Homo sapiens: one gene and its partner. The protein of the gene in region 1 interacts with the protein of each later gene in a pairwise test. Each region holds a gene or a part of one and is shown on either strand. Other genes may lie near its edges.

Evidence for each region. Proteins that work in one complex are often made in the same cells at the same time.
Region 2: the proteins of TMEM132D (region 1) and HEBP2 interact in a two-hybrid assay, tested with the Homo sapiens proteins (one large-scale study listed by BioGRID).

What each region holds. Positions count from the first base shown.
Region 1 is NC_000012.12:129,070,985-129,075,247, forward strand, and holds the end of TMEM132D (transmembrane protein 132D precursor), read right to left. Parts: intron 4,092-4,263; exon of another isoform or gene 4,076-4,091; coding exon 2,891-4,075; 3' UTR 742-2,890; downstream 1-741. UniProt on the Homo sapiens protein: Regulate neuronals morphology via inhibition of the WAVE regulatory complex (WCR), a complex that controls F-actin cytoskeletal dynamics.
Region 2 is NC_000006.12:138,417,723-138,421,222, reverse strand, and holds part of HEBP2 (heme-binding protein 2), read right to left. Parts: 3' UTR 1-3,500. UniProt on the Homo sapiens protein: Can promote mitochondrial permeability transition and facilitate necrotic cell death under different types of stress conditions.

The sequences.
Region 1 (4,263 bases):
GACCCTGTCTCAAAGCAAAAACAAACAAACAAAAAAACCCATGACTATCTGAAATTATTTTGTTTGCTGTTTATTCCCCCTACCCAAATAGATATAAGTAAGGTTTTGGAGAGTGCATGTGCATTTGCTGTATGTGTGACTCTGTCTCTAGTGCTCACAGCTATTCCTGCTACAGAGTAGAGTAGCTGCTCAGTAAATACTGGCTGAATAAATGATTGACCTATCAATCACTTGCTATTGTTTGCATGAATATAAGGATTCCATGCATCTTCTTGTTTCGTAGAATTGTCTTGGGGCTGCAGTTGATAAAGGAATCTACAATCAACTTTTTAACCCAGTCCAGAGTTGTTGTATGTACACTCGAGACCCAAAGGAAGGACAGAGAATTTTCCTCACCTCAGCCCAAAAGGAGGCTGGAATGCATGCTTGCCTGCCACAGTTTCCACTTACTTACCACCATCAGTCAGCAGGCTTTTAGGAGAGAATTGCACGTGTGATTTATTTGCAAATCCTTTCAGGTCCTGGAGGAGAGATACTTGGTACACAATGCACTTTGTCATCACGTGTCAACATCCCCTCAATGCAGGGAGCAGCACTACACGATGTAAAGGTGGAACTGGATTGTGCTGGGATCCTTCAATCAGCATTTCATTTAGAGCTGCAGCATTTGCAGAGCCATTTGCAATTGATGCCAGCCCCTTGGAGGGGGTCAGCGTGTAGAAGACAAAGGACAGCCATAAAGCCACTGAATGCAAACTTTATATTTACAGTCAGTAAGTTTATAAATATATATTACATTCTTACAATCTACAGTACATTCTACACGCAGATGGATTTGGAAGCGGGCAGCGGCTGCAGTATTCAACAGAACATGACACAGGTAAGAATGGAAAGAAATATGAGGACGTTACTGAAAGCAAAGGATTCTCATTGAAAAGGGGTGACAGCTTAATCACCCAACCAAACAAGGTAGGTAAGCTTGCGGACAGGAGCAGGTGACTTACTGGCTGCAGAAACCTCAGTCTCAAGAGCACCACAGTTGCAGGGGAGAGGGCTAAGGTTGGGAGGGTAAACTGGTGAAATTTACACACACATGATCTAAAGAGAATTCAATTCTATGGAGAGGAAGAAGGAGTAAAGACACACACTCAAAATTACAGAGATGAGATGGAGAGGAAGCAGGGAGAAGATAGGTTCAAAGGAGGAGAGAGATACAGAGACAGACACACAGAGAGACTGGAAAACAGACAACTGAAGAGCAGAGAGAGAGAGAAAATGACCAGAGGGAAAAATAGAAGATCAATTCAACAGCACGGCCTCTTCTGCCCACCACCCGCTGCCCCCGACCATCTTTTGCAGGATCCTATCTGGCTGGCAATCACCCAACACACCATTCTCTACCTTGGAGTGAGCGTGAGATGAGGCAGGAATTCTCTGATGTATCCTTGCCCCCATCTTCATAGGCTTCATAAGTGAAGGGATTCAGGGATATCCAGAGTCATGGCTGGTCTTAAGCAATGCTGAACCTTTCGGGGCTGACTGCAGGACCAAGTGCTTGCAAACCTGCATCTTCACCACATGCACTGATGCCCCTTATCCCTTCGCACCTCCAAGATGAAGAAGGTTTCTGTGCTGTCCGGTGTGTGTGAGGCTGGGCTTCCTGCTGGATCCACCACTTTCACACCCAGAACCCCCCCAACTCCACACGCCCTGCACGTTCCACACAGGCACCCCGATTTGTCTCAACAGCCTCGAGGCCACATCTTTGGACAGGAGATCTGCCATGAACAGTGAAAGACCCATCCCAAGTGGCCCTGTTTTCTTTCTAGTAAAGCAAGGGAATGTATATCCCCTGGTATGGAATTCACCGTGACTACCGCCCATGCCTAGAGACCAGCCTCTTCAAAGACGGACGGCGTGGGACATATGCCCAGGTTGCGGGGGGAGCTTCTCTACAGAATGTCACTTGGGAGTTGACACAAAACCCAGGGGGAGAAAAAAGACCCAGCAAATACTACAAACTGCCCTCTCCCTCCCCCACCCACAGGTGACCAACGGCTTTGGGGAGGATGGCAATGCAGTGGAGGAATAGAAATGGATACATTGTGAACTTGATATGAATCAAAAGAGCGTGGTTCTTTGAACCTGATTCAAATTCTATGCCCAGTATCCTTAGTTTACAAATAAAGAAGTACCCTGAAGGGCTCAGAGGATTTGCGTCCATGTGTTTGTCCTTGGCATGTAGTTACAAAGGTATTTGTGGCCTGTTAGCCCACATGTTCCCTTTCAGTCCTTGTCAGCCACTTCCTTGGCCTGTCCATGATCTGAGACAGCTCTGGCCCAGCCTTTGAGAGACAATGACTCACAATCATGCCTCCCACAGCTGACGGCGGCACTGGACTGCCTGTGATCGCGCTCACAGCAAGATGTGCTGCTCCAGTTTCGATGACACGCTTCCTCCCATTGATCCATGGATGCGATCCATGGATGCTCCACCTGAGTTGTACTTTTCTTCCATAGTCTGCAATATTGAATATTGGAGCCATGTGGATTTTACAATATCCAAATTGCTTTGATTCGAGAGAGAGAGGCTGTTCTTTCCTGGACGCTCTCAGACGCTCAGTGATTCAGAACTCGTTTTTGTTTCAAGTCTTAAAAATCTTGCCATGCATGATAAACCTCTTAAGCAAGACACTGTACTCTGGAATGTGTGCGTCGATGCGGACTCCAGGCCTCGCCGCCGAGCCGGGGTCATTGGCTGAGGCTGTATGGATAGTGTCATCCTTATTTTGTCCTGCTGCTTTGTTTCTCTTCCGGGGGCACCGTTGCTACACATCCTGGAATTAAAGGCTGAAAGGTGAGTGAGAACCAATGTCTGTGTGTGTCTGGCTTACACATTTTCATGTAACCTCTCCATGTAGTTGTGCAGCTCTTTGCAGTCCCCAGGGTCCAGATCCTGGCAGACCCACTTAATGTCATCCTCGCTACTCATCACGATGGAGTTCCTGGTGGGGTACTCGTCGTCTGAGGAGACGGCGGTGAAGGTGGTAAATTTTACCCTTTTCCTTTTTGAGGTAGGGGATGTTGGGGGCTCACTTTTCTGATCTTTCCCATCAATGATGATGGGTCCCAAAGGTTTGAACAGCTGCCCATTGATGCTTTTTTGGGAGTTTGTGCTGAGGAGATATTTACTTTCCTCGAAATCCATGCCCCTGTCAATGGCAGTGATTTGCTCATCTTGCGAGGAGGCAAAGTTGATGTGATTCTCCAACAGCTCTGTCCGGTTGCTTAACCCAACCCAGTCATGAGAGTGACTCATCCCTTCCTGCTCCTCGAAGGGAACCTGTTTGTGTCTGTATTTTAATGCAAAGGTCACACAGTTTATCAAGAAGACCAAAATGGCCAAACAGAAGACTCCCAACAAAGCATACATCCCAATTTCTAAGTCGCTCAGCCCTTTGGATGCCTGCATAAGGTCATTCCCATCCATTTCCCCATTGCTTCTGGGGAGGTCCACCTGGGCTGGGAAGCTGGTGAGGTCGCTGGGGATGGTCTGCAAGTGGCTGTTGTCATCTAAAAGGCTTTCCTGGCCTTTCTTCTTCTGCAGGATGGACCTGTCTGTCGTGGTGCCCCGTCCCTCCATGAGTCCCATAGAAGAACTGCCATAGTACTGTCCTTCCTGACTCCCCCATTCCTGCGAGGGTTTTTTGGGCCTTCTGTCACTGACATTGTTTTCCATGTGAACCCCTGCCCCTGTGTGTCTGCTGTCACTGGTGTTGGGGTTAGCATCGTTTTGGCCAAATTTAACTTTGATGTTTGCCGTTCCAACAGCTAACACACTCTTCCGCTTGGATTTCTGGCAGGATTCACTAATAACCATTTCCACCTTGACCAGGGTGCCTTGTCCTTCTGTTTCCGCAGCAATGATAGGCCACTTGAATTTGGGGTCTTGGTGGATGGAGACTACCTTCTCATCCAAAGATGTGGCCATCAAGGAGAAGTCTTTCCCATCGTAAATATCCAAGGGCGTGACTGAGCCATCACTGAACTGGACCCAGCAACTGATGGCTGCTTCCTATGGAGAAAAATATGTAAGTTAATCAAATGGGCCAAAAAGCTCATTGAGCCCCAAGTCTTAGTACAGTAGACACACAACGGCAAAACTATTGCTACAAGAACAAAGACAAACCTTTCAAACAGTGTAGAAATAAGCGATAAGAAGTACCAAGAGTATAAAAGAAAATGAATTCTCACAAAGATGCA
Region 2 (3,500 bases), on another chromosome or scaffold:
GCTGATTCCATCATCAAATGAGCACAGCAGCATAATTTGCTTTGGCAGATGTGAGGATGTTGTTGGGGGAATGGAGGGTCATTTGAATGAAACATGGACCTGATTGTTGCGCCACTTTCCTTAATAAGCCACTCGGTAACTGTAATACAGTTTCTCTCAGTTGCCTGCTCTGACCTACCTTCCACAGCGGCCAGCCTTTATTCACAGAACAAGAGGTAGAGCAATCTGTAGTCATTTGTTCAGCAATGGGGGAAAAAAAGTCCTAATAAATGCTTCTCATGTGCTAGGTAAAGACAAGGAGGCCCAAAGATAGAAAACGTGGTTGAGCTATCAGTGAGGGGCATGATCCTACTGCCAGTTTAGATTCTTCAAGAAGTAGACAGTTAGAATACCAAAGGATTTATTATTGGAGTAAGCACCTTTGAAAGGAAAAGAGGAAGCAGGACGAGGCAGGGAGAGCAGGCGAGCTGCCATCCCAGGGGAACTCTGGGAAAAAGGTCACTCATTGGAGGAGTCCTGTGTTGGACTGAAACAGTTAGGTCCTTGTACCATGGCCTTGCTTGGTCTTTGGCAAGAGGGCCCCCTCAGAAAAGCATGCTCTCAATTTCCATAATTTAGTGAAATCATTGGCCACCAACCCCTCCTGTCTTGAGAATAGCGTGACCTCAGCTTGAAAGCTAAGGTGGATCCTGGTGAAGTAGCAGCTGGTGGCTGCCAGCTACCCACACTCCTTGCAGCTGGATGGCATATCTTGTCTTGAAGGGGGATCTAAGTGGCACCGCTCTATGCCTGCCATGGTCCACCCCTTGCCTATGTGGATCCATTTTCCCAAAAACACGCAGAGAGTGACTGTTTCAGGGCGCCAATGGACCTCTCTTCCTGAGGATAAATGTTGAAAGAGGAGTTTGGTAGGACCAACTATAGCACCTTCCTGCAAATGGTTTTGGAACCACAACTGGTCCTCATTACTCCCTGCTTCATTCTAAATTCCCCTCACCCACAACTGTCATCTTTGCTGGTCTTGGTGGCTTTTTTGATAGTATAAACCAAGCTCTCATTCCTGAGGGTCCTGAGCTCCTGGGAGCCAAACCCTTCTCAGACCAGGGTTGCTGCACTAGTCCATTCAGTTACAACTGGGCAAGGAGTACAGAGGGTGCCTCCAGTGGGTCCGCTAAGTTCCACACACATTGCTCTCGCCACTATCCTCTGACAGCAGGCTTGCCTCCTCCTGCAGTTCAGGGTCAATTACCCTTGACTAGATGGTGACTTCTTGCCTACTGGTCCCTGAACACAGAGTCCAAAGTGCCCACATAGTAGCAGCAGACTGTAGTTCAATGGGATTCTTGCAATATTGCCTAGAGAAGGTATACAGTCTCTGAGAACTAGGACTTCTGATGCTGTAGAACCTGGAGTTGTGGGCATGGGAAGTACTAAGTCCCTCAGTGGTTCGTTGGGTGCGATGGTAAGTGGGGTCACTCCTGCCTCCACTCCTTGGTTCTGAAATCTATATATTCCTGTTGTAGACACAGCATCATACAGGCTTTCTGATTCAATAAGTATACTGTGTGCAGGAGACGGTGGCACATCTTGGCAGGGTATTGTCTCCCACCTGGCACTAAAGCAGGCCATGCCAACATTCCATCAGTCTAGCAGCTTCTAGGTGGCGCAGTATGTGATAGGAGCAGTGGATCCTATGACCGCTGGCGAACTCTCCCTGATTGGGTGTTAACATGTATAGATCACGTATTCAGCAAATCTACGCTGACAGTTCAGATGTTTTGTAAGTCCTTAGATTGTGTTCAGGACCCTGTAGGCCCGAAAGGAACCACATACCTAGAATAGGAAGTCTGTCCTTGTGTGAATAAACTGCTGGTGCTTCTAGGAAAGAATGAGCCTACCATAGTGAATTTGCTATCAAGCGACCAGTTGGTCTTCACAGCCTCATCAGGGTCTCAGCATTGGTATTTGTTGCAGGCAGGTTGGATAGTCACAGTGAGCAGTGTCTAAGTTGGCCTTGGTAAGTGGGAGCCCATGTTGGTGGGTTCCATCCATAGCCTCCATCTTTGCCACCACTGCCACTTTATGTGTGCATTTTACCAGCACTGAGGTGGGCACTGGCAAAAGCTAATAGAACAGGCTAAGTCATTTCATCTACTTGGTTGTTTAGTGCCTCTTCTCTGGTGGGTGCTATCTAGTGGGCATTAACATGTGATACAGTTTTTCAACTTCTGTGTTCACTCCATATGCCCATCCACATGCCTCTACCCCAGACCTCCTAATCCATGTTTTTTTCCTCCCAAACTCCTGATCAGCTGGCAGGCCATTTTCTGCCACTTCCATAAATATTTTACCTGTCCTCCCTCACAAGGTGAATGATCCAGTGTACCTCAAAAAATTCTGCCCAGTTTTTGCAGGAAGATTGCAATTTTTTTCCCGTTTTTCAATGTCACCTTTGAGTGAAGGTCCATTTTCAGCTTGCAACTACAGAAGATAACTAATCAATAAACCAAGCCCAAGCATTCCTCTTCCTTCAGTGGATCATACAGGTCCTCCAACAACCACAGGGAGGGGGGATGTAGGTGCCACTGTGCAGACATGGCGGTTGGAGTAATTGCTCTTGCAGTTTGCTTATGTCCTCTGGTCTGGCTTGGAACTGCTCCTGTACATATCATTTCCATCTTCCAATGGGCTGCTGCCGATCCTACTAGCTTATGACTTAGTGCTTCCCACAGGACCTAGTTAAGATGAGCAGTTCTGGATACAGCATCACTGGGTCTCAAAGTTCCGTGTCTACCAGGGCCCAGTAGCACAGCAGAGGCTGTTTTTCAAAAAGCATATGATCCTCTCCTGTGGTTAGAACCACCTTCCTTCAGGGCCCCAGGGACCTGCACTGTGATTCTCTCATTGGGCCTTGTCATCTATTCCACACTGCATCTTCTTTCCCCCTACCTCCAATACATAAGATCTGCCACATCACATAATTCAAGCTGCTAATTTCTTCATATCTGTCACTTCTGGTTCTACTTCTAATGATTACCCTTTTTTCCTAATTATGGGCCATAATTTATATTTCTCTGTTTCCAGTAATTTTTTACTGAATGTTGGTAATTATGAGTGTTATGTTGTTTGTTGATGGATTTTGTTATATTCCTATAAATGGTATTGGGTTTTATTCTGATTCACAGTTAAGTTTCTTGAAATTAGTTTGATCCTTCCAAGGCTTGTCTTTAAGCTTTGTTAGGGGAAGTCCAAAGAAGCCTTTGGTCTAGGGACAATTTGACCTCAGTACTAAGGCAACACCTGTTGGAGGACTCCACCTGATGACCCATGCATTATGAGTTATTTCTACTCTGGCTAGTGGAAACACAAACTTTTCCCAGCCCCATAGATGATCTGTAAATTATTTGCTCTACTAATTTCCAGTTACTCATTTCTTGGCTTAAGTAGTTTCTTCTAACACCTTCACTCAACCAAGGACTCCAGGGGACCCACTGCAGATC